3 separate regions of the Homo sapiens genome follow, and regions 1 and 2 are each linked to region 3. Evidence: fine-mapped expression QTL. A gene starts in region 3. Each other region holds a variant in brackets. All regions are shown on one strand. Distances are from middle to middle. Region 1 has its middle 6.1 kb from the start of OR6K6. Region 2 overlaps SPTA1 (spectrin alpha, erythrocytic 1). Region 3 holds the start of SPTA1 (spectrin alpha, erythrocytic 1).

Evidence for each region. PIP is the estimated chance that this variant, and not a neighbour inherited with it, causes the effect. A credible set is the group of variants that fine-mapping cannot tell apart.
Region 1: its variant is the best candidate, but not a certain one, in a credible set for the expression of SPTA1 in lung (TOPMed, PIP 0.55).
Region 2: its variant is the best candidate, but not a certain one, in a credible set for the expression of SPTA1 in whole blood (INTERVAL, PIP 0.55).

The regions. Positions count from the first base shown.
Region 1 is chr1:158,743,028-158,754,308 of GRCh38, forward strand. It overlaps the pseudogene OR6K5P. Among named protein-coding and RNA genes, the nearest start is that of OR6K6, 6.1 kb to the right of the region's middle. The variant C/T (reference allele first, on the strand shown) is at 9,215.
Region 2 is chr1:158,647,690-158,652,936 of GRCh38, forward strand. It overlaps SPTA1 (spectrin alpha, erythrocytic 1), which reads right to left. Exons shown (of 52, transcript NM_003126.4): 23 at 4,778-4,964; 24 at 3,678-3,779; 25 at 2,167-2,258; 26 at 820-964; 27 at 1-31. Among named protein-coding and RNA genes, the nearest start is that of SPTA1, 36 kb to the right of the region's middle. The variant C/G (reference allele first, on the strand shown) is at 2,998.
Region 3 is chr1:158,681,113-158,692,701 of GRCh38, forward strand. It overlaps SPTA1 (spectrin alpha, erythrocytic 1), which reads right to left and starts at 5,603. Exons shown (of 52, transcript NM_003126.4): 1 at 5,382-5,603; 2 at 3,996-4,235; 3 at 2,259-2,384; 4 at 415-555. The coding sequence starts at 5,405. RefSeq lists a silencer at 7,450-7,664 and cis regulatory regions at 8,024-8,321, 10,819-11,148.

The sequences.
Region 1 (11,281 bases), 62 kb after region 3:
GGGGGTTGCAGATGGCTACACACCTGTCAATGGCCATCACTGTGAGGACTAGGGCTTCTGTGACCCCGAGTGAGTGGAAGAAGTACATCTGCAGGAGGCAACCTATGAAAGAGATGGTTTTCTGTTCACTGAGAAGGTTGGAGAGCATCTTGGGGATAGTCACGGTGGTGTACCAAATCTCCAGGAAGGAGAAGACACTGATAAAACTGTACATAGGATTATGGAGATGGGGGTCCGGTTGGACAGCAAAGAAAATCATGAAATTTCCAACAAGAATGAATATATAAATAAAGAGCATAGGAATGAAGAATAAGAGGCTGCCATTCTTAGATTGAGGAAAATCAGAGAAATAAAACTCAGTCACCATTGTCTGATTCTCTGGATCCATATTTTCAGCGGTTTCACTTGTTGGCTCATAAAACACAGTCAACATTCTAAGTACATGCAAAGAACAAATAAAAACCTTCTTTTCAAGCAACTAAACAGCCTTGAAATTAGGCTGGTTAAATAAAATATACTATGTGAGTCATTTTGCAACATATAAAGTTATCCTGTCAAATTTAGTAATTATAATAACTTATGTTGTCAATTATTCTGTTGGATAAGCTAACAGTATTGCTAGTTAGACATATAAATTGGTACAAACTCCCCTGAATGGCAATTTGGCAATTTATATTGAGAGTTTAAGACTGTTTAGAGTTTAAGCCTTTCACTATGTAGTCTAGGGGAAATATTTCAGATATTAAAAAAGAAATATATGACAATATTAGCTAGAACATTTATTATAACAGTAAATTAGGAACAATTTAAGTAAGTAGACATTTTCATTTTTTTGAGATGAAGTGTTGGGGACACAGAAGAATGGGTCATGACAAAATGATACCCTCTGTGGATAAGAATAAACTCATTTTTAAGTGCGCATGTTTGAAACTAAAGTATGATTAGCAGCTTCCCTTAGTCTGACTCATTATTAACAATTGAATGAAAAGAAAAAATCCAAACATTCCACCAAATATTATTTACTTTAAGACACAAGAGGCTAATCTCATGTGACATATATGGGTATACAAATTAATCTAATCTACACTCTAAAGGGGGTGTATTAGGGTTCTCTAGAGGGACGGAACTAATAGGAGATATATATATAGTTAAAGGGAAGCTTATTAAATATTAACTCACACTATTACAAGGTCCCACAATAGGCTGTCTGCAAGCTGAGGAGCAAGCAAAGCCAGTTCGAGTCCCAAAACTGAAGAACTTGGAGTCTGATGTTTGAGGGCAGGAAGGGTCCAGCAAAGGAGAAAGATGTAGGCTAGGAGCCCAGGTTAGTCTAGTCTTCTCATGTTTTTCTGCCTACTTTATATTCTAGCCACGTTGGCAGCTGATTAGATGGTGCCCACCCAGATTAAGGGTGAGTCTGCCTTTCCCAGCACGCTGACTCAAAAGTTAATCTCCTTTGGCAACATCCTCACAGACACACCCAGGATCAATACTTTGCATCCTTCAATCCAATCAAGTTGACACTCAGTATTAACTATCACAGGGAGTTAGTTAATAGTTGAAGTGAGCTAATCTAGAAATTACATTCTAGGTGTAATTTGCAACATTTGAAATACTTTAATCAATAGTCTACCTCAAGAGGCAGTTTTGACAAGGGCTTCAAATATTCTTATCTGTATCCACACTGTAGAGTTTATTAAATAATGTAAAGCAGGTTTTGTCAATTTCAGCATTATTGACATTTTGAAACAGACAATTCATTGCTCAGAGAGAAGGCAAGGCTGTTCGTGCATTATAGAATGTCTAGCAGCCACCCCTGGTCTCACCTATAAGGTGTCAGTAGCATAGACCCCTCCCTCGTCATGACTACCAAAATCATCCTAGAAATCACCAAATGTCCCTGCAGGGAAGAAGTAGAAGAAAATTTGTGCCAGTTAAGAACCACTGGCATACAGAAATTTTTTTTAATGAAAAACCAGGTGATCAAGATACGTTGATTGGCTGAAAGTATTCCTAACCTCTGGCTTGCAGGGATATAAAACAGGATGAGCTAGGCAGCCTATAGAGCTTGGAGAGGTGCAATAGGCACATGATCCATTCATTCCTGTGTTCCCTCCTTAAAAGGGTATTTATCACCTAATCTCACTAGAAAGTTAGCTTTTCTACTGCAGAGAATTTTATTACATTTTATCTTTGATAGAAACCTTCATTTATTATACTAACCAGAAAGCATAAGGAAAAAGAGTTGAGACTTCCATGAGCTTCCAAGAAAAGGCCTAATAGTAGTATGTTTTTGCCTGTTTGCTAATAAACGTTTGTTTGCATGGCAGAATTCTGACTCTTCACTTGGTACTGAGGTGAAGATGGGACCTCTAAATGGAGAAAGCTACTGATATCTACCAAAAAAGTCAGACAACTCTGAACTGCCAATGGATACAATAAATAGATAAAATTATTTGGAAACCGTAATGCCGGAGGCTATACACAAGTAAGAACCCAGCTTGGCATATGGCAACCACAATTTTTTTTCTCTTGCTTTTTATACATACAGCAAAATAGTAAGTCTATGTTGAAACAGGAAAATATGAGGTGAAAATTCCCTTGTTTTTCTTTAAGAAAACTTTTACATAAGAAATGGAGGCTCATAAAAAATAATTTATACTCTAGCAATTTTTACCTTAATTACTCTTATCTGGGCTTATTGTTTCCAGACTTGTCTTACTACATCTCACTTTCACATAGCTACTGAAATAATCTTTCCTAAATGCAAAGCTGTCAATCCTCTGTCTGAAAACCTTATACTGGCTCTCTGTAGGGTTCCAAATCAAACCTGAGCCTTTAAGCAGAACAGATAATATGGCTGTATATGAGATTGTAAAATTATTTTGTCATCCCAATATCTTATGACTGTATTATCCCCAACAGGCTTTCCTAGTATGATAGAAAATGATACCCGTGTAATTGTTCTGTGTTCTGCTTACAGAGGCAGTAGGGAGACAAACAGGGAAAGAAGCATTAAGCTCTATGTCCAGTACCGTTTGGAATTAGAAAATTGAAATCTGGAAATTTTTGTTAAAAAGGTAGGTCTTTAGGAACTTGAGTCTTTAAGAAGGAAAGAGGATGCCTATAGGAAGGCAATTTGATATAGAGTCTTGGGAGCAAAGTTATACCTAATAGGACTCTCCTATTTTCTGTAGGAATGGATACCCCAGAATCTCAACCAGAAGCTCCACTAGTTGTCCTGACATTCCTTTATTCTTAAGAGCCTGTCCTGATGCCACTAAATACAATACAAACCTAGATTAGAATTTAGCTCAGAAAATAGTAGAGTTGTGAAAGAGTCATAGAGCTAGTGGGCCAGACACAATTTGACAGATTTAGTCCAGGTGTTTGTTATCTTACGGCAATCTCTAATTGTAGGACAAACACTCACCAAAGCCCTCCATCCCTAAGTTATGGTCCTTTCCTCTACCTCATGTGTTGTCACAATCTCAACAAAATTTCCACAAGTCCTTCTTTAAAGTCCAATAGGAAATAATATGGTTCTGTGAAAATTGTCCCCCAATATCTAGTAAACAAAGTCATTCACTCATATCTCAAAGTAGAAAGTCCACCCATCAGTCCATAGCTACCTCTTCCAGAAACCAACAGAGCCACCTCCTCTTTTCCAAATGTCTCCATCTTCATTGCTCTGCAGCCCAATAAGTAGGAAGGTTGTAACCACAGCCACACCTCTAAGCATCACAGGGAATTGCTAAGTGGGAGAAAGGCTTTCTTCTAAAGGGCTCTTTCCTGGGGGGCTTAGGGAAAAGCAACTCTATGCCCCATGAGACTAATTAGGAAAACACTTGCTGACACACTCCCCTTTCATGAGGTCAACACACCTATGGGAAGCTAGGTTTTTCAGTCAGGCTAGAAATCAGATGAAAAGAGTACTTGGCTTTCCATTCTGTCCAAGGGGTAAAAGAATAGTTTAAATTACAAAATCTGCTGAGAAAGGGAAAGGATAAGGAACAAAAGGAATGAAACTAACGCAATGTGGTTCAAAGGCAGGAGAATTTTCTCTACTCTTTGGAGCAGTTTAGTGATCACACAGCACAACCCTGAAGTGTATTGCAGAAGATTCAGCCAGCTGCCATCCAGCACAGCTTAGTAGAATTTCTTCAGAAGGATCCAGGGATCACAGGGCCATTTGCAGTAGTGGCAGTAATGAGGGGGCTCTCATGAGATTTCATGGGTTTCAGGGGTTCCAGCAGCAGATATCCCAAGTGTATGGAGTCAGGAAAGGATTGAAGGGCAACCTTTCCTGCTACATGAAAGCTGTATTGATGAGCACACATGAGCTAGACCTTGGACAGACCTGAGGAAAAAAAAAAAAAGGGCCCTCATATAGAGGACAGGAAATAGAAGCAGAAGGATACTTTTCTAATTCTTTTTTTCCTACTTTTTAAAAACTGAAATTGGACTTAATATTAACCTCCAGGTGGGTAAAGGCAGAAGAAATAGACATATACAACACATAAGATTTTTTTCTTCTATCACAAAAAGAGATATAAAACAATCACGAAGTGTTAAATGTTTAGTGGAACAGTAGCAGTGGATATAGAAATGCAACAGAATTTGAAAGCATATTTGAAATTAGAAAAAAAAAACTTATGAGACACAGGCATATATGGTGCGAAAAATGAGTCAGAGCAGAGGTGACTTTCGACTCTGAATGATTAGATTTTTAATAGGCGATTTTTAAGGCAGATCCTTGAGTGGAGGCAGGGGGACTGATTGAGGCCATGACTTCGAGGCTGCAGTGCACCGTGATCGCCCCTGTAAGCAGCCACTGCACTTCAACCGGAGCAATAGAGTGAGATTCTGTCTCTAAAAAATAAAAATAAAAAACAATAACAATAAATAAAGACAGTCCCTCAATAAGCATTCGATTAAGGAATATGTAGCTAAATAAACGAATAATTAAATGAATCGGCGAATAGCTAAAGAATCAGATAGTGACTCAAAGATAGTCTAATTTGTAGCCACACTGATGTTTACTTTTTGACCCTGATTTTATCCAGTCTTACCACTTAAGATAAATTCCTCCTCTTACGCTTTGAACCTATTTATCTCATCTCATGCAGAGACACTGTTCCTTCAGTTGTCTCACTTACCTATGTATCCTCCAAATTTTCCTCTTTTTAGTCTGCTTATATAGCTTATGAATATGCTCAAACATATTAAAGTATATACTCTTTCTCATTTTCATTGTTGCTCTAAGTCTGCCATACTGCCTTTCTTCTTCCCGATCTTATTTTCCTAAAAGCATAGTTTACTCTTTTATCAGTATTTCTGTCTCCACCTTTTCACTTCTTGTTCACATGAACCTACAACCCCACTTAAGAGATAGAATATTATGAATAACTTTGAAGACCACTACACTTTCCTCCCCAATCCAGTTCTTTATTGCCATATTACATATTACCATTCACCTGAATTTTGTGTTTATTATTCTATTTAGCACATGTGTGCACACTCAAAAACAATATACTGTTTAGTTCTGTTTTACTCTATGTAAATAGAATGGTATTTTAGGCATTACTTTATAATTTGCTTATTCACTCAACATATGTTTTGAGAATCATTCACATCAATGTATCTAGCTGCAACTTTAAAAGAAAATCCCTGCTGTCTTGTATAAATGGAGCACAATTTAATCATTCATTAGCCTTCAACGTTTTGTATTCTGGAATATTTGCATCTTCAACTTCACTAGATGCTGCCAAATTGTTTTTCAGAATCTGTCTACCACCAACAATAAATGCATTTTTATTGTTGCACATCTTTTCTAATGTTCTGGGTGGTCATATTTTTGCTACTCAGTTGTTGTGTAAACAATATGCTATTGCTTTGATTTGCAGTTGAATGTTGTATGTGTGTATGTGTGAGTGTGTGTGTGTGTGTGTGTGTACTCCTCATTTGGTTGTTTATCTTTTTCTTATTACTTTGTAGAAGCTTTTTGTATATTCTAAATAAAAATAATCAGTTATAAACGTTATTACAAATACAGACTCCTAGTGTATATCTTGTTGTTTTTCTTTTTAATGATGCTATTTGATGAAACGAACTATTAAATAGTTTTATTCATCAGTCTTTAAATTTATGGTTTATATTTATATGGAATTGAAAAATTTTAACTAAAGTTCCAATACAATTGATTAAACAATGCACCTTTTTCCACAGACCTGTTGTGCTGGCTATGTTCATCTTTTCCCCAGTGGTCTGCTATACCTACTCTCACGTATGTTAAAATCCCATACTATATTAGTCTATTTCTTTGCTTCCATTGGCTGTTTACTCCCACTGCTATTTTATTACAAATATTGCTTCATAATAACTTTTACTAAATAGACAAGTGGCACCATTTTAATCTCCTCCTTTGAAATGTCTTCTTCTTGGCCCTCATTCTTACATATCCCACTCCTCTCTACTCAAAATGAGATTTTGATTGAAATTGGGTTGAAATGATTGACTTGTAGATGATTGGCATGTTTATGTAACTGAGACATTCTATTCATTCATACAGCATATGGATCAATTTATTTATGTTTTTGATATAGTCCAATACAGTTTTATAAAGTGCTATGTTTAGATGTAACATATCTTTTACAGTTTTTTATTTTTGTTGATACTTCAAATGGCATCTTTTTATTACACTTTTTGTCAACTGTTACATATAATAATGCAATGTTAAATATATCCATTTGTATCTATGCACTTGCTGAACTTTGTGTTATAATTTGTCTTTATTTTCATTTGGAAATTTTATATCATCTTTAACTAATTTCATTCTTTCTTCTTTATGGTCTTAATGCTGTGTGTTTCTTTTTCTTATTTTCAAAGTTTTACTTTTTATGATGGACACCCATTTTTAAATATATATCTCTTTATATAGGTATATATACATACCTATGTATATAATTTTTAATGGAGATTAAGATATATTATATAATATATTTAAATTTTATTTGCTGAGTGTTACAAATAATAATAGAAAAATCATGCTGCTGTAAAGACACATGCACACGTATGTTTACTGCAGCACTATTCACAATAGCAAAGACTTGCAACCAAGCCAAATGTCCAACAATGATAGACTGGATTAAGAAAATGTGGCACATATACACCATGGAATACTATGCAGCCATAAAAAATGATGACGTTGTGCACATGTACCCTAAAACTTAAAGTATATAAAAAAAAAAGAAAAAGCTAGTCGAATTCCCTATTTCACCCAGTGATTGTTTCTTTGTTCCTGTAATTCTCTCATTTGATTTCTGCAATACATCATTGCCTTGATTCTCTCTTCGTTTCCTGAACTCTTCAGGATAAGACAATAAGATAGACCTAGGTTCAAATTCTTACTCTGCCACCTGCTTAGCTACCTGACTACAGAGAAAATACATGGTCATTAAACTTTAGTTTTCTCATCTGTTAAGTGGAAATAATAATGACTAATTTACAGAACTATGAAAGGATAAAATGAGATGAAATATAAAAATGCCCTAGCAGATTTTGTCACATATTTAATAAATGAAAGTTATTTACTATTAATACCATTTTTCTCTCACCTACCTATTGTAATCCTCCAGTCTCTTCTCATATTCCCTAAATTCTTTTTCAATTATCTAGTGCATTCTCATAGTTCAATTATAATCTCTACTTAAATAACAGACATCTGTGTCCACAGATGTGTCCAAGAAGAGACTTGTCATCTCTTCTGAAATCCAATTCTTCATCATTAATGGCAAATAGACATTTCTACTTAAAAGTTCTCTCACATTTTCAAGATAAAATATCTATAACTCATCTTCTTATAATTGCCCCTACAAGCTTTTGCTTTAGCTGGTCCTATATCTGTCGATAGTGCCATCTAACAGACGAACTCAACCTTATGAATCTGTTACCTTTAATGTTCCTTTTACCATCATAGCACAAATATAATCAGGTGTCGGGTCCTATTGATTCTTTATTCACAATTACTCCCATCTCTTCTGTCCTTTAATTCCATTATTACAGTTCTATTTTAGGCCTTTACTCCAGATTATTGCAGAATAGGCTCTGATGTCTGATAGGTACTCAGTAAATGTGAGTTGAATAAATAATACTTCCTACTTCCATAATTTCTCTACTTAAATGCATTCTACATATCATCAACGCAATTTTGTGCATTAATTCCAACTCAAAAATTATCTCATAACTTTCCGTTATGTGAAAAATATGCTTTCAAAATCCCAATGTCTGACATTCAAAGACCTCCACACTCTGCCAAACCCTACCTTCCAGTTCTGTCTCTTCCCTATTACATTCCACATGCCATATGATTGAAGCCAGGCGTATGTGCTAAATAATCTATAAACATGGATCTTGTATTATCACCTCAAAATCCTAGTTGATCGTCTTCTATTAAACATACACTACCTGAGTTTAGGTAAGTCTTAGGGCTATGCATTAAAGGTTAAAATATAAATTAATATTGATAGATAATCATCAAATTTCTTAGAATCTAGACTTATAACTAGATAATTTTAACAACAGGTGTAGGCACTAGATGCTTTACAAGCACAAAAAAGAGACTCCCTGGCCGGGGATGGTGGCTCACGTCTGTAATCCCAGCACTTTGGGAGGCCGAGGCAGGCAGATCACCTGAGGTTAGGAGTTCAAGACCGGCCTGGACAATGTGATAAAACCCCGTCTCTACTAAAAATCCAAAAATTAGCTGGGCACTGTAAGTTCCCGCTCTGGTCTGAGGGACTGGTACCCCAGCCCCCAGTTTTCAGGCCCTCCCTGGCTTGAATGTGGGACCTTACCAGGGACCTGCCCCCTTCTGCCCAGGAATCTGTCTGCTTCTGTTGCCATTCATGGCCCCCAGGCTGTAGGTGTGAAGGGGGGCCTGCATGCCAGCTCTGAGATGCCCTCTGTGCCCCCTGGGCTTCCCTCCTATGCTTCTTGGTGCCCAAAGTCTGGAGAGGGAGAAGGCATCAAGGGGCTGGTGTATCAGCACTGCTTGTAGCATGTGCATACCTGGACAGACTACAATAGGACTGGGTCTCAGCCCTTACTTTGCTCCTAGATTGGAGTGGACATTGACAGCAGGGAGAAGCCAGGCAGCAGGAGCAGGCACTTTCAAACCTGCAAGAGAAGGGGGACCTTCCCAGGACCCCAGGAG[C/T]GCAGAGGTGCCTGGGTCCGCAGCCGTGGTTTGGGTGGCTACACTTGCATGGAGGAGTGGGAGGCCATGATCCACAGTCATGACTTGGGTGGCTGTAGCCCGAACCTCCTGGGTGGGGCTTCTGCCAGTTCCATGGAGCAGGTGGCCCAGATCTACAGCCTGGGTTTGGGTGGCTGCAGCTGCGCCTGGAGGATGGGGCTCTCACCTTCTCCTTGGCCCCAAGAGCACAAGGATGCCTGGGTCTGCAACAGTGGCTTGCAGCGACACCCTGGGGTGCTCCCACCCCAACTCGGAAGGCGCAGGGCTCCCCCTTGTCCCTGGTTCCTGCCCTGGCCACACTGCTACCGTCAATACTGGCAATATATTCCTAAGTCAGGGAATATATACTTGAGACTAATCAGTAGAGATATAATTGAAAGGTAATGCTAGTGTTTAACTAGATTTGAATTCAGAGGATTAAGGTTCAGTTTCTTCCATGCCTTGTATTGCCTGTGTGTACTGGAGAAAGCTTTTGGCTTCTCTGAGCCTCCACATCTGCAAAATGCGAATCACTGTAGTCTTGCTTACCTTATACAAAGAGGTTTTTTTAATATGATGAAAAACAAATCACATAAATCTTAACCATGTTAACTATTTTTTTCAGCATACAAATAAGTTTCTTAAAGGATCAAATAAGACTTGCATTTAAAAACTTCTAAAAATATGATGATGTTGATTATATCAACAGAGGGAATAGAAATCATAGTGAAAATGAATAAAAGTGGAGAGGAAAGAGTGTTTACTGATTGAGTATTCCAGAGAATCATGATCCTGGATGAAGTTTATTCTGACTGCCACAGCTGTGCCCCAGTGCCCAGCTTTATACTCTATTCCTCTATGAGAGATAAGGTTTTATAGCCCCAGGACAACTTTTGAAACCTGACCCTGGGGAATGTCTAATTACTATGTAGCATTGTTCTTCTAATTTGTCCCTTAGAGGGGAGAGAAAGATACATAATTTTCCTTTAGACATTGCATCATCCAAAGAGAAACTCCCAGGAAAGACCATCTTTCCATTCTAGTTATTCCTGGAAGAGGCTTCAGAGACATTTGTACCCTTATTGACAGGCTAGGAGAAGAGGTGGCTGCAGAGATTTTGAGGAGCATTCTCATGGTGTCAGGCAGGGTAAGTACTAAAGACTGCATTGAAAGGGCATCATCCAACCTCCTTTTACTTCTACTTTGCCGCCCAATAGCTTCCTTACATCCTCAACTCTTCAGAACCCAACTGTTGCCCTGCTGTTTCACGGCAAACTGTCATATTTTAAGAACTTTGTTACATGAGTGAAATATTATACTAAGGGTAAATGAAATCGGGAAGGGATAACAGAAAGAATATGGTTCAGCTAACAGTTTGAAGATACTGATAATGTCTAAGGTCTTTTAAACATTAAATCTTGTTGAAACCCTAATAATTGTGGATTCTTGAAGAGTCACAGAGAAAGTTACTGCTTTTCTTCAAAGTCAAGTCTAATCTAATTCAAGTGTCTTTACGTCATACAAGAAATATTTTTAGATTGAACTCCTTGGACACTACTAAATATCTTTAACAGTAGGATTTTATTGATGGTTCTTTATGTATTTCAGGAACAAGAATAATATTTATTTACCTTTATATAGCCCTTGAACCTATGGCATCATCGACACATAGCAGAAGATCAATCGATATATGAGTGTTAGTTGAATAAATGTACCGATGATGAATAATGATGCAGCTTTACTACTGAGAAGGGCCCCGTGCGTACAGCAACAAAGTAGTCACTCTGTCTGGCTTTTATTAGCCACTTAGCACCTATTTTCTTGTATTTTGTTATAGCCCTGTGTTTCCTTCTCTGTCCTTCCATATTCTCTATAATGACTACTCAGCACGATTATTCAATTGCTTAGAAAAGAAAAACACAGGAAGGACAGAGAAGTGGATATTTTAGTCAGAAGAAAACTCCAATATCTTACACTTTTCCCCTTGGAAGCTCTGCCTTTCTGTGGCGCACTGTTGCTTGTTTCCTTCCAAAGCCTGCCTCTCCTATC
Region 2 (5,247 bases), 37 kb before region 3:
GCCGCTCTGCTGTCTCCCCCAGTATGGTCACCTGGGGAGGTACAATAGCTCTGATAATCAGCCTAGAGACACACCTGAATCTTAGCAAAAGGAGAATCCTGAGTCCCAGTATTCAGCTCCTCAAATAGATATCAGTGATGTACAAGTATGTCATCATACTTTACAAAATAATATCAACCTTTTAGTCCACATAACTCCCTAAGGTAGTTACAATTGGCATTACCATACTTCTTTTTAAAAATAAGAGAGTTGTGGGGAAGAGTGGTTAAGTGACTCTGCTGGTTAGTGGCAACCTCAATTAGGAAACCCAAGGGTCTTGATTCTTCATGTGAGGAGCTTCTTTTTGCTCTGCATGATAATGCCAAGCCTCTGAGTATATCTGACAAGCTCCAGAGTACACTTTTGGGTTGAAACAGAGTTAAACAACTCATTCAATTCCTTGCTAAGAAAAACATGCACCATACTCAGATATTGGCCTGATCATCCTGGGTATGGACATTTGCTATTTCTTCTGGGCTACTGGCCTCCACCTAGCTGCCACAAGATCTGGTCACTTGTAACCCACCAAAGAGGCAAGGGGATATAGGGTGCTCACTCAGACAGCAGGAGTTTAACAAGTTTTTTCCCCATGTTAATGGTCATGGGGCATATCCTTTTCATGGTCTTGCCTTAGGGACAGTGTACAAGAATAAATATGGCACAGAACAGAGAGAAATATAAGAATAAAAGACTGAAAAAGAGAACCAAAGAAGAGGGCATTGGTATACGGCTAAATATAGACTGGAAAGTGTTGGAAAAGCTTTGAAGGACTTGTCTCACCTTATCTCCCAGGGGTACGAGGTCCCTTTCAAAGCCCTCATGCCGTCGCTGAAGAGCCTGAACACTGAACAGATCTGAGCCAGGGTCTGCAGCACTGAGGGCCTGGCATTTCTTCTCAATCTGCTCCTTCGTGTCATCTGCTTCTCTGGTATACAAGAGAGTAGAGAGTTCAAAAGTAAGGATATGTACCAGAGGCAGGCTAGTGGGGGTCACAAGAAAGTTATCATCACTACCACTCACCATCCTCCCACCCACCCCCCCACCCCAACCAATTATCATCATTGTTTTTTATGTGCTAGAAACTTAGGCTCATTTAATCTTCACAACTCCAAGAAGCATAGTTACTATTACTATTCCCATTAAATAGATCAGAAAACTGAGGACTAAAGAGGGTAAGTATTTTCTCAAGATTATACCACTGCTGAATGGTGGAGCCTAAGCTTGAACCAGGCCATCTGACAGCAGTCACATGCTTAACCATCATATTTCCATAGCTTTCTATCTTAAGCATTCTACACACACAGACCTGTCTGAGTCTGTTTTTCCTTCCCTGCATCATCAAAAATACATTTATACACAATGAAGGTGTTTAGTTTCTGTTTTGTTTGTTTACTTTTTTGTATGTGTCTTTGTGTTTCTTAGTTTGAAAATCAAACAAGAAAAATGTTGAATGAGCTGATAGTCAATGTGATGTCTGTTGCCCTCTACTGTCAGCTTCTAGTTGAGAAATGTAATTACTTAAACCTCCTGTTTCAACTTCAAGTTTCTTTCTTTCTGTTTTGATTTTGAAGATAAGGGTCTCACTCTGTTGCAATAGGCTGGAGTGCAATGGCTTGATCAAGGCTCACTGTAGCCTCAGCCTCCTGGCTCAAGTGATCCTCCCAGCTCAACCTCCCAAGTAGTTGGGACCATAGGCCTGTGCCACCACACTGGGCTAATTTTTCATTTTTTATTTTTTTGTGGAGACAATGTCTTGCTTTGTTGCCCAGGTTGGTCTACAACTCTCGGCCTAAAGCAATCCTCCTGCCTCGGCCACCCAAAGTGCTGGGATTACAGCTGTGAGCCACTGCCCTCAGCCTAAGTGTTATTCATTTTCATGGAAACATATATAGACTACTAATTATGTTCCAAGGCCCAAGCCTAGGCTTTAGAAAATTGAAGCTAGTTGTCTGGGAGTATCCTGTTTGTGAAGTGAGAATCATACTACTAAAAAACCTAATTTTCTATTGGCACATTGTCTCCATCTCACGAAAAAAGATTATACTATGGTTCCACCATAGTAATAGACTTAGAAGTTTAGTGAGTGGGTTTTAAAGCAGCACTGCTTTTTAGAGTTATAATTATTACCTGTGAAACACTTCAACAGCATGGGCACTGCCCAGCAGCTGCCGCTGTTCATCTGCAAGCCTCTGCAAAGAACCCCAGCGGGAATTCAATTCCTAAAAGAGGCAAAAACATCAGACTTGAGACAGAGAACTAACTCACATGGCTCAGTGGCGTCTGAAGACCAGACAAGATTTAAAACATAGTTGTTTTTACGTTATTTTCTTCAGAAATTGCATAGCTTTGCTTCTTTCTTGGACAGCTTGAGCTTGGGCCTCATTTTTGCCAGTGCAGCAGAGAAAGTGATTTCTTCCCAAACTGATGTTAAAGGGTGAAACCATCAACTCCGGAGCAGTAAATAAGTGCTTGCTATTACAAAGACTGCACTGTAAACTCCAAAAAATGAATGGGAAGTGTTGCCTTGGTAGTTAGAAGTGATCACATTTCTCTAAGACAAACAATTCTGTATTCTGAATTGAATAAACCAGGTAGACTTTTAAAGCCCTACTTTCTATAGGGGGTAAGTACATTGTTCCGCTTCGTATTTCTTCACCTTCTTATCCCATAACAACCACTATAAAAACAGGCAGAAAACTCATCCTCACTGACTATGGCATTCCAGAGAACTAGACTGAACATTTATTAATGTTCATTAGATCTTTTATGGAATCATAGATCCAGATCTGAATCAGGTCAAGAATGGCCTCTCCTCTGTCTCTACTGACCTATATTCTCCTTCTTCAGCACGTTGATCAGAATCTGTGTCTTCCAGTAAACTTTCTTGATCAACCTCTTCCCACTATCATAGCTTCTTTATCTGCATTGTCTTTGAATTCATGTAATTGAGAATTTCTT[C/G]TGTGTGTGACAGTGAAAGAGAGGTGAGTATGTGTTGTAATTTAAGAATTTTAGATCAGTTCAAATGTATATATTCCAAAATTGCAGTTCAAATTCAATTATATTATTGGGTGGACATGTAAGGAAAAAACTTTACGTTTAATTTGGTGTAGCCTGGTACAGAAGATTAAGAGGAGGTTTGGATATTGTAATTTGGATATTGTGCTATCCAATATTTGCTTTCAGATATAGAAACTGAGGTTTTTAGAAATGAAGAGACTTGTCTGAGGACACACAGTCAGACAAGAATACAGCTATGATGTAAATCTAATTTACCTAATGTCCAGTGTAATATTATCTAAACCTCCTAATCCTGCCTTTTAAAGCTACATCTTAATTTCTGCTACCAATACTTTTGTCTCCTTTCCCACCCCATCCATGAAATGACATATGTGAGGGCATGGAGGACACTCAATATATGTTAACAAATGAGCCTGCTTTAATTAAGTTAATTTAGACAACAAAAATACAGGGACTATTTGGGCTATTGTCTTTGGCCTTTCCTGTAGCTAATTCCATACTGCTGTTACCTTCTGCATGTTCTAGTGGGTCTGCAGAATATAAAGTTCCATGTTGAAGTGAAATGAGGACTCCCAAAGCCCAACCTGGTAGTGAGGAGGAATGGAGGGAGCCTTAGTTACCTGCCGGATTTGAGCTCCTTCTGGTGTTAGAAGTCCTTCAAATAGTAGATCATCAGCTACCTTGTTGATATCCCTTAGCCGAGGCTCATTGGTATTCAAATCCTGAATGGGAAAATTCATCCAAAGCAGTGTAAATTCATCCAAAGCAGTGTAAATCCCCTCATCAAGAATCTACCATACTTACCTGTCCATCTCTGCCCCTACATCACCGTAATACACACCAAGCTCCTCTCCTCCAATCCACCACTGAGAAGAGTATCCTTAAAGATCTTGACACCTAGTGGCTGTCCAAAACTTGTCAAGATAACTATTATTTATCTGTAGTATGAAGCACAGCCATTTTTCTAGATTTCTTAAAATCTCCCCTGGATTAAATTATACCATTAGAGGGATTGATACCTGAGCTGTGTAACATCCTTTTCTACCAGTACAAACTCCAGCTTTAAAGATTTCTTTAACTGAGTTATTATCTGCCTATATTATGAGATATTGTAAGAAACAGCTCTAGGGAGTGCTCTCTCTCTCTCTCTCTCTCTCTCTCTCTGTGTGTGTGTGTGCGCGTGTGTGTGTGTTAAATCCCACGTGGAAGATATCAAAAGAAAAAGAAAAGAAGGAATGTACACTCACTGCTAGTTAAGATAATGGAAAAAAATCTAAGGGAAGAAAGAATATTGAAAGGGTTTTAGGTAGGCAAAAAATTAGAAATTGTTTGTCAAGTCAGGTTCTTCCTTCTTCCACCCCAAACTCTGCCCCATAATTAAACTTTACACATGGTACAACAATACCTTATCCCAACCTGGGCACTGGAAACAAAGTATAGTATAGGGCAAGTTGTGAAGAATTCAGGAAGACCAGCACTCCAGGGAGGATTTTGGAGTGGCAGGCACTGAAGGCTGCAGTTAGGGTAACTAGTTTTCTCTGCATTTCCCTTCCAATTATTAGCAACTACAATACCTAGAGGGAGATCTCAGCCACAGAGTTGCCAATAGCTTTGGGGAGAATATTTAACAAGTGTGAAATAAATTAAAAGATCATGTAGAATATGCTGAGGGATAAAAGCAAACAATGGCAACCTTCAAGAGAAGGTTCCTCTTTCTCACCTTTTGGAACTCATCAAACTTTTTCTGCAGCTCCCAAACATCATCTAGTTCCACTCCAGTGTTTTCTGCCTTTTTCTCTTGAATCCATTCCAGCATGTCTCCTGCCTCATAGGCCAATAAAAATTCATTATAACGTTGCAATAGACGACGTCTGCGTTCTTCTGCCCGATCCAAGAGGGAGCGGTATCTGGATGGAGAATTGGGAAAAGTGGAATAAAAGAAGGAGAAAATACAGAAGAGTAGAGGCTGAGTGACAAACATAGAGAAAGAAGGAACAAAAATGAAAGGGAAAACAAATCAAAAGCAAAAGAATAGTAGAAGAGAGGAGGAAATAAACTTAGAAGGAAAACAGCCTTGGGGGCAAAAAGATAAACACATAGGATTGCATTTAAAAATAGTAAAAATGCCAGTGACCCAATAGTATGACTGGCAACATTCCTTTCCCATTTCATAAAAGTGACATTTTTACA
Region 3 (11,589 bases):
CCTTTAGTATTTAGAAAAATAAAACCCTCCATCTTTATAGGCACTGAGACACAAAGGATTAGAGAAAGAGCTGTCAATACTCTCAGCCAGACCCCAGAGTAAGAGCAAAAACATAGGAGAAGGAGTTAAAAATCATGGAAGTGGAAGAGAGATGAGCCTAATTATCTTTCAATGCATGGTCTTTGTGTAAGTCTTGCCTTTTTCATATTCAGATCCATATGTTAAGACTTACTTCCATACAATGTTGACCTCCAGATACCCCTACATTTTGGCCCCAATTTCCTCTTGTTCCAAAGAACAAAGCCAGGAACAGACATCCTGACTTCCTTGTGAGTAGTCTGCAGTAATTTGCTATGGGGTACCTGGGACAGAGGAGTGGGAGGCCCTGTGTGATTGCTGTTTTAAGTTCGATACCTTGTCTCCAATCCACTCTAAGATGTCAGCACACTCCTGTACATACTGCTGGAACTTCAGGGCCCGCAGCAACTGGTCACCCTTCTCCAGGGTCAGCTCTAACAGCAGGTCCCACAGGTGGCGTAGCTCCTCTATATGGGCCTTTAGGAAAGAGGGGCAAAACCACTCAGCCACAGACACTGGGAGCAGGGAAACACTCAGAGACTTGTGCAGAAAGAGACCTGGATAAAAATTCTTCTCTCAGTTACTCATGCATTAGTTGCTCAACAAACATTTAAAAGAGGAAATAGGATAGATATATGGAAATAGCTAACAAGCCAAGCCAAATGCGATCTTACATAAGAGAACAATTTGTAAAAATGCTTTGCAGTTTTAAAGGATGGAATAATTACAAACAATAAGATGGGAAGGAGGAAGAAAGCATGGAAAAGTGTTCATTTGAACTGAGCCTTATGGAGCAGAAAGATTTTTGACAGGTCAATCATAAGCATAACATGTTCTAAGAAGAGCAAACAGCAATAGCAAAGGCATAGGAGAAACTTAGCATGAATTGTCTGCCAGAAAGTGTGAGAGCTATAATTTTTATAAGTTATAAGGAAATCATTGGCACCGAAACAATAACAGTGTTTTGGGACTATACAGTTTGAGAATCTACAGAGGGCTTTGAATGCCAGATTAACTCAGAACATTATGTATTACCTGTCTTATATAACTGAAATTGCCACCTATGTCATATCTTCAAGAATCTTATATTTTTCAACTACTCCATTGCTCTGGGTAGCATGTGGACCACATATGTCGTTAAACCCCGCAATGGTACCATTTGCTATAGCCCCAGTGATTCTGACAGAAATGAAGATGTTTCAAACATTTCTCAAATATTGTAATTAATGTAGATGCTGGTTACATGCAAAACTGTGCATAATACAAAAGTTAATTATACTTTATACAAATAAACAAGTTTTGAAATTTTCCTTTTATGGGTTCTTCTTTAAAATAAGATTCTATTCTGGCTAAAATCTGTGTCCGTTGACCATATTTTGATGACAGAATGGGCTAGAATTTTTATGCTATATATAGAAAGGCCAGACCCAGTTTTAAGATATATAATGCAAATTTGTTTTGACAATTAAAAAAATACATAAACAGTAAAAAGTTCACTCACACACAAAAAAATTGAATTGACAATATTAGCACAAACATTTGGAAGAGTTCGTAGATTAAGTCCAAAAATAGCTGTTACATTAATAATAGATTACAGAGTATGAATCCTTATTGAAATAGTGATGATCTTCATTTCTAGATGTTCAGAGAAAATTTTCTGACTACATGACATTTGGGAGTTTTTAGAAGTAATAAGAAGGGACAGTTTGGAGAGGTGCAATAGTAGTCATAGGGTATGGTGTATGAAAAGAAAGAGGCATCATAGACAAAGGAAAAATATTTTGGAAAACATTCAAATGAGAGAGCATTCCTTATTTGGAGAAGTTAAGAGACAAGGACATTGAGGTTAGAGGAAATAATTAGAAAGAACATTGGAAAAAACTAATTGATCTGGATAATGTGGAACAGGTTTAAGTGGGCTTGATCTTGAGCCAAATTATCCTGCACTGTTATAGGAGGAATTTTATGCCATTTAATGACAGCTTTAATATCACAGCTCTCTTCACCCCAAGAAACACGAAGATATCCCATCATTTTTTATGCCTCAACCCCAGGGGAAGATAAGAGGCAGGAGTCCTGGGTATAAGCCAGCCACTCAAGGTTTATATCTCATATAATCAGTTAAAACCCTGATAACATAATCAATAATTGGAAACTTCTTCAAGGGCCCATACATATACCTTCGTTTCTTCGTGGGCAGAATGACCCATGGTAAATCGTTCTTCCCTTGTTTTTTCCAGTTCAGACATGAGTCTTGATTTTGTTTGCACCTCTGCTTCAAGGGATTGATGCTTCTGATATTTCCCCTAAAGTTTAGAAATCAGAGTTTTTGTCTAATGAAGCACAGTCTTCATGGGAAATGTTCACTCTATGTAAAGCCACCAAACACAGGTTCTCAAAGGGTCCCAGACTCAGAGGCCATAAAGAGTATTTTCCTGTCCCCACTGGCTTTAGGAAGTTTTCAGTAAATACTGTCCTGAGCTATGCTGAGCCTTATGATCTATGCCGAGCCTTATTTTAAAGGCTCAATAGACTGCCATAGGAATAAAAGAGTGTAACACACAGTGTCCTTCCTCATCAGAAAAGAGGAATAACTGATTTTTTTTTGGAAGTAGAGCACAATGAGAAAGATGATAGTTATAATAATGGTTTTTAAAAAAAAAAATTGAGAGTTTTTTTTGCATGCTGTGCCTGTTCTTGTAATCTATAAATTGATCCATTCAATATAGCACATTATTTTGCTCTTGTTCTAGGTGTTTCCTGTCCAACATCAATTGCTTCTGATTATGACAACACCACATGCTATAATTTTAGGTGAATAGAAAGGGGTAGGCACTTTCACCAAATTTCTTCTACTGAAACCTCTCTTTTGAAGTTAAGAGCCATGAATAGCAATTTAGGGAAGAAAAAAAAAAAACTCTGGTTAACTCATCTCTCTGAGAAGAGTAGAGAACAGGTATCACATGCTATAATTTTAGGTGATCAGAAACGCGTAGGAGCTTTCACCAAACTTCTACTGAAACCTCTCATTAGAACTTGAGACCCATGAACAACATTTTAGGAAAAACTTAAGAGCCATGAATAGCAATTGAGTTAACCAGGTTAACTAAATTGGATTTTAGTTAACCTGGTTAACTCTTATATTTCTGAGAAGAGTGGAGGACAGTTGCTTCAGAAGCATTGATGACTCTTCACCCTATTTCCCTTCTTAATGTCCCAAAATATCAAAAATCACATGGTTTGTCAGAAATTTCTTGAATTTGCAGTTGCTGTTTTGCCTGTAGGTCAATTTCAGATGAGTATTGTAACCATCAAATTCTATACAGAATAAATCTCCTTTGCAAATAACACCCCGATGTTTATGAAGATGAAGACATGGACTATTTAGAGGCAGAATTACTGTTTCTAACAGACAGTCTAATTTTTCCATTACATCACTCCCACTACAATTAACCAGATATACACTTACATTACCATAATATTTGTGCTGGATCTGAAAAAAAATTGATGTAATTTTTTACTTTTGGCATTGATGAATGCTTCACCATGAAAATATGTAAAGTATCCTATGCCCTTATCAATAAGCAATATCCTTGGTTAATGATTAAAAAATGTATATTCTGAATGGAAGTTCATTGTAAAAAACAGTTCTGTGCTTTCAACAACTGAAAAACTGCTGCTTTTTGTTTGATTCTTATTTTCTCAGTCTCACCTCTCCAACTTCATAAGGGAAAATGCACTTTTAGATTTTCTATTAATTTATTTCTTTAACTTCCCACTCCACTGACTTATTTTTGTTTCTAAACGGAATCTAATTGTACCCACACATACCCATTAACATTAACATAAAGAAAAACCTATTTCCTTCTCTAGAGATCTTAGGGTCTGCTCTGAGGCAATCAAGAGAACTGAGTGACCTGTATATTAGTTGGGTCTTCATAGCTCTTATCGGTTAAGATATTGACTTTCTCCATGATCCACTTCCCCAGATCATCTGCATCTCGCTTGAAAACTTGTAAGTGATAGGAATCCTCAAGCTTCTGACCCCTCTCAGCGACCCGCTCCTTGAAACTTTGATACCGAGTCAACACTTCCTGACGCCTCTCCTGGATCTCTTCTGCTGTTTCCAAAACCTTTGGCCCACTGCTCTCCACAACCTGCAAGTTAAAAAGATTCTGTTACTTGCTAGTTCTCAAATATTTAACATGTTGCCCCGCTTATATGTGTCAAGGTGTTTACTCATGTTGGACCTATATTCAGATATCCTGAAGTTTCTAGGGACTATTGTCAGAAGAGCTGTAGTATATTTACGTAATTTTTAACCAGACATAGCTTCTGTTTAGGTTAAAAATTCTTGATTATCCAGAAGACTCTCCTCACTTTTTACATAAATTTGTGCTAGCATTTAAGTTCTATAGATATAATTATATTGGACTGATCATGGAGCAAGTTTAAATCAGCAAAATCACATAATTTCAGATAGATAAAAAGAAATATAATGTTATTGCTTTCAAGGGCTAAAAAGGTGTTGAGAAGTGCTTATTATTTTTAACTTAATTTAATAAATAATTAAGAATGGCTTGCAATTAATTTAGTTAATGATATATGCAACAGTTTGAAAATTTTGTTTCCTTCATACTTAAAAATAAATCTCATATATTTACTCTTTACTTGCTTTACTCACAAACACTATAAATCAAAAGTTCAGCTATCTTCTGCCCAATTGTCACAAATTTCAAATTATTAGCATGTCTGCAATTTATTTTTGAAATATAAAAACTTTTACTCTAAAACAATATATAAGTATCCTTTTCCCAGAGTGGGAGCCAACCTGTTTGTGACAATATCCAGCAAAATCACCATAGGGTTCACCTTCATTCTTCTGGATATGGATACCATTTTCCCTAGCTTACCTCAGCCAAAATGTTTAATATAGAGTTTAAATTTTAATCTCCCATTATTCCTCCTAAGTATAATTGCTACTCTGTGAATTGCCATTACTGGCATGGCTATAGAATTAGATCATTACATGGAGACTCACGTTGTTACTAGGTGTTATTTAGCTTCAATCTCCCTACTTATTCTCTCTGGGAACCGACTTAAGTCATTACTGGGTCTTGGTGCTGCACAGACATAAGCTCAAGGTTATTGTTCACAAAAAATAGTTAAAAGTAAAATTATCTATTTGTTAAAAGCCAAATAATTATTAATGTTCCTGGGAAAGATAGTATAGAAAGTTTAAAGGAAACATCTTTCCTAATAATATTAATGACAAATTGCATGGAAGAGAAATATGTACTTACGGTTTCCTTTGGAAATTGCTCCATTTTTCCTAAAGGTTTAGAACCTGGCAAGATAAAATGTGTCAGAGAGAGAGAGAGAGAGAAATAATTCAAATGGAACTGTCCAGTCGAATTCAAATAGAAATATAGAAACGTTAAGTATGTGGGGGAAAAAAAAAAACCTCTTGCTTGGTCCTAGAATCCCATCAGCCATACACAATCGACATTATCTTTAGAAGACATACTCAGCTGAGGCAACTGCTAAGTTTTACAGATACTGGGTGACTCAGCAGTTTTGGGAGGCTCTGGCTTTCAAAGTTACTCAATAAGACTTAAAAAATGAAAGTAAGGTTTTTGGATGAAAAATTAGAAAAAAAACCCCATATATTTATAGGAAATACAGCTCAACAACTTCATCCAACTCAACTGCAGATTTTTCACAGTCTTTAAGTCAACGAATTATCCTGGCTTTTTCTAGAGAGTCTTTCACAAAATAAGATTTTATTCCTAACCTCAACAATTTGGTCTTTAAAAATCTGATTTAGTTGTACTCTTAATCATTTAAATGGAAGGAACAAAAAAAGTTATATGATGTGTTCATTAATATTTTGTAAAACAAAAATTAGGATACCTTATTTGACAAACCAATGATGTCACAAAAAAGTTGAAAATATGGCTGACTTCTGATATATATGGTATAAATCATCCTACTGTATGTATTAATTTTAATGGAGAACAAAAAGAGGTAGACTTTTTCCATAGGCATAGTTATTTTAGACTAACTTACAAAAATGAAACAAACAAGCAAAAAGAAAATAGTGGGATGCTCTTAGACCTTTCTACAAGCCAGTGGGGCTATCCATGCCAAACTTCATTCCAGTGTAAATGCAGCTTGAATAATCTAACTTCCATGATCTACAAGAGAAGATTTTGATTCTACATTTGTGGTTTCCCCTGTTCTTGGATCTCACATAGAAAAACTGAGAGTCCTTTACATTCTCTTCTTGAAAGTCTGGATTACTTTACTTTTCCATATAGTTTCATTATATTCAAGTCAAATTTAGTAGTAAAGGCAGGAACATAATTTTAGAGACTGCACTATAACACATGCACTGAGGAATATTTGTCTGAAGTTGGGATAAGGAGAGGAAATTATTTTATCTTTAAGAGAAAAGAATCAACATCTATGAAATATTTATATATTAACATGATCAATTTACATTAATTTCTAATCTTTAAAAATTCTGTGAGGCAGGTATTATCATACCCGTCTTTATGTGAGAAAACAGTCCCTAAAAAACAAAGTTTCATTCTATGGTGATTTGGTTTGAAAGTATTTAAATAGTCAAATCCATATCAATATGATTATCATGGCACTCTGCTCCTTATTTTTTTAGTCAATCTTCTCTTAGTCCATCAACATTATTTGTTCTGTTTCCCTGTTCCAGAATCATCTTAGCAAGAATGCCAAACATGTGATAACCTTGTGACCAAAGAAATAGTATGGCCCATTGTGAATAGTGCCACAATATACATATGTGTGCATGTGTTTTTATAGTAGAATGATTTATAATCCTTTGGGTATATAGCCAGTAATGGGATTGCTGGGTCAAATGGTATTTATGGTTCTAGATCCTTGAGGAATTGCCACACTGTCTTCCACAATGGTTGAACTAACTTACACTCCCACCAACTGTGTAAAAGCATTCCTATTTCTCCACATTGTCTCCAGCATCTGCTGTTTCCTGACTTTTTAATGATCGCCATTCTAACTGGCATGAGATGGTATCTCATTGTGGTTTTGATTTGCATTTCTCTAATGACCAGTTATGATGAGCTTTTTTTCATATGTTTGCTGACTGCATAAATATCTTCTTTTGAGAAGTGTCTATTCATATCCTTTGCTCACTTTTTGATGGGGTCATTTGTTTTTTTCCTGTAAATTTGTTTAAGTTCCTTGTAGATTCTGGATATTAGCCCTTTGGAACCAACCTGAATGCCTATCAGTGAAAGACTGGATAAAGAAAATGTGGTACCTATACACTATGGAATACTATGCAGCCATAAAAAAGGATGAGTTCATGTCCTTTGCAGGGATATGGATGAAGCTGAAAACCATCATTCTCCACAAACTATCACAAGGACAGAAAACCAAACACCACATGTTTTCACTCATAAGTGGGAGTTGAACAATGAGAACACATGGACACAGGGAGGGAAACATCACACCCTGAAGCCTGTTGCGGGGGTGGTGGGATAGGGGAGGGATAGCATTAGGAGAAATACCTAATGTAGATGACGGGTTGATGGGTGCAGCAAACCACCATGGCATGTGTATACCTATGTAACAAACCTGCATGTTCTTCATATGTGTCCTAGAACTAAAGTAAAATCATCACAATAAAAAGAAAGTAAAAATGCTTACTAATTCTATAATGTTTATTTTAAAAAAAAAGAAATAGCATGGCCCAATCAGCAGAACTGATCATAAGGAAATAAAAGTGTCTTTTCAACATATGTGTTGGAAAAATTGCATATTCACATAAAAAAATGAAATTGGACCCTTATGTTATGTACAAAAATCAACTCAAATGGGATTAAAGACTTAAATTACAACCTGAAACTGTAAAACTCCTGGAAAAAAAAAAACACAAGGAAAAAGCTTTATGACTTTTATCATATATAATAAGAATTATATATTTAGTATTTTATACAGTTTTAAAAGGATGGGGATAATTTGGAGGGCTGTTGTATCTGGCCATGGTTATCACCTCAGGGAGGGTTTGTACTTTACATAGTAGTTTAATCAGCACTGAACAGCTTGCCTCAGCTGCTGCTCAGGCATCAGAGCAAAGTGATCTGTTTGGTCTTGCCAAGTACTTCTTGGATACGGTACCAGAAACAAATGCAACAAAAGCAAAAATAAACAAATTGGACTACATCAAACTAAACATCTTCTGCACAGCAAAGAAAACAATAAGCAATAAAAAAAGTTCTCTTATGGAATGGAAGAAAATATTTGCATACATCTAACAAGAGGTTAAAATCCAAAATATACAAGGAGCTTCTTCAAATCTATAACAAAAACGAAAATTAGAAAATGAGCAAAGGACTTGAACAGATGATTTTCCAAAGAAGACATACAATTGGCTAACAGGTATAAGAAAACGTGCTCAACATCACTATCAGGAAAATGCAAATCAAAGCGATACTGAGATATTATCTCACATCTGTTAGGATGGCTACTCTCAAAGGAATAGAAAAATAAGTATTGCTGAAAATATGAAGAAGTTGGAACAATTGTACACTGTTGATAGAAATGTAAAATGGTGCAGCCACTGTGGAAAACAGTGTAGCATTGCCTAAAAACGAAAAATAGACCTATCATACAATCTAGCAGTCCCACTTCTGGGTATACAGCCAAAAGAATTAAAATCAGGATTGTAAGGAGGTATTTGCACTTTTGCACTTTTATGTTTATCTCAGCACTATTAACAAAAGTCAAGAAATGGAAACAATTGAAATGTCTATGACTGATGAAAGTGGCATGTACATACAATTGAAATAATTCAGTCATAATAACAAATGGAATCCTGTCACATATGACAACATGAGTGAACCTTGATGAAATTATGCTAAGTGAAATAAGCCAGTCACAGAAGGACAAATACTGCATGATACCACTTATAGGAAGTATATAAAATAGTCCAACTCATAGAAACAGAGTAAATAGTGCTTGTCAGAGGCTGAGGGAAGGAAAAATAGGTATTAAGTAGGTATGAAGTTTTATCCATGAAAGATGATTGAATTCTAGAGCTGTGCTGTACAACACATTGTATAAGTGTTAACAATACAGTATTGTACACTTCAAAATGTGTTAAGAGGATAGATCTCATGTTGTTTCTCACCACATTAGAAAAAAAAGTGTATAAGAATCATAGTGTTTGTTTGTTTGGTTGGTTGGTTTTTGTTTTGTTTTGTTTTGTTTTGTTTTGTTTTGTTTTTTGAGTTGGAGTCTCACTCTGTTGCCCAGGCTGGAGTGCAGTGGCACGATCCCACTTCACTGCAATCTCTGCCTCTCAGGTGCAAGTGATCCTCCTGACTCAGCCCCCCTAGTAGCTGGGATTACAGGCATGCACCACCATACCCGGCTAATTTTGTATTTTTAGTAGAGACAGGGTTTCATCATGTTGGCCAGGCTGGTTTCGAACTCCTGACCTCAGGTGATCCACCTGCCTCTGCCTCCCAAAGTGCTGGGATTACAGGATTGAGCCACCGCACCTGGCCAGAATCATAGTCTTTAGAGCAAAACTGCAATATGGAAGTACACAGGAGACATTCAGGGGAAGGTTTTGACACATAAAAACTGTTGAGTTCCTTGAGTTTTCCATCATTGTAGGCAGCAGAGATTCATGTAAAGTTTGCTCTGACAGTACTCTGGCTGCTGCTCTGGCATTTAGTGACTTAAAATTCAGTCCCATCCTGCACTCAAAGTCCCTTGAAACTAACATTGATTCTCCAGTCTCTAAGCATTGTTTATGATTATTAGTGCACATAACAAGGCATGTCGCTGAGATAGAAGAAAGGGCATGATGGAAAAGTCTTATACCTTGGTGGTTTAACGCTTGGACCTCTGACTTTCTTCTTCTACTTCTACAATCTCCCAAGAATATTCATTGGCTCTGATCATATAGAGACCCTTATTTAAAAGGACTCAGGAAAAAAAAAAATGGATGGAAAATACCATGGAAGTATAAAAGGAAGTACAATCTATAAAACTGCATGCCCCAAATGCCCATCAATGATAGACTGGATAAAGAAAACGTGGCACATATATACCATGGAATACTATACAGCCATAAAAAAGAATGAGTTCATGTCCTTTGCAGGGATGTGGATGAAGCTGGGAATCATCATCCTTAGCAAACCAAAAGAAACAGAAAACCAAACACTGCATGTTCTCACTCACAAGTAGGAGTTGAACAAAGAGAATACATGGACACAGGAAGGGAAACATCACACACTGGGGCCTGTCATGGGGTGAGGGGCAAGGGGAGGGAGTGCATTAGGACAAATACCTAATGCACGCGGGGCTTAAAACCTAGATGATGGGTTGATAGGTGCAGCAAACCACCGTGGCACATGTATTCCTATGTAACAAACCTGCATGTTCTGCTCATGTATCCCATAACTTAAAGTAAAATAAATAAAATAAAATGAATAAAAACTGCATGCTATGCTATATACATTGGTGCTGAGAGTTTACAGGAGACACTAGGGTTTGTTACAGACAGATTATTTAAAGAAAAAATTGGAAAAGAGTTCTATTTTTTATTAGAGAATTACGAACTTGAGTAATAAGTAAATTTTCAAATAAAGTTAAGGGGTAAATAATCTTAGAGGACCTGAAGTGAAAAAAAAAAACAAACTTTATTTTTTGAATTGTATTATCTAAATGCTCTGGCCCATTTAGAAGTCAAAAATTAGAGAGATTTTAAAATGAGAATTATATATTTAGATATATTTTACACCACTTTACAAGGGCAGGAATAATTTGGAGGGCTGCTGTATTTGGCCATGGTTATCACCTCTGGGAGGGTCTGTACTTTACATGACAGTTTAATCAGCACTGAACAGCTTGCCTCAGCCTCTGTTTAGGCATCAGAGCAAAGTGATCTGTTTGATCTCCTAGACTCAGAAACTTAAAGAGATGCTTTATATCCAAAAATTCTAAAGTCTTCTCAACTGGAATCACTAAAATCCCTACCTGTTTTCTGTGGATCTTTTGGAGTTCAGCTTTTTCTGCTGATTACCAATAAAGACAAATATTTTAACTTAAATGTAAAACTATTTTTCTCATAAAATTTTTATTATTTTAAATTTTTACTTTGTGTTTCTCCAGAAATAGTTTTTATTTTAAAATTCCTCCAATTTTGACTTATAAATGAGTTAGAACAGTAGATAATGTCATTCAAAAAATTTTACAAGGCCTTTTGCAGTTTACTGTAGCCACCTTGATTTATCACTTTAGGTCTTCTAAGGTTATTTGTCCCTTGACTCTTTGCTTACAGAACTGCAAACTTGAGCAATGTATAAGTTATCAGATGTATATATTGCTCATTTATAATTCTCTAATCAATGAAATAGAACTCTTTTCTTTTCCTATCTTGATCATCTCTCACTTTCTTATTTATTTTATTATCTTTCTGTTGACTTATTTGGTTTTACT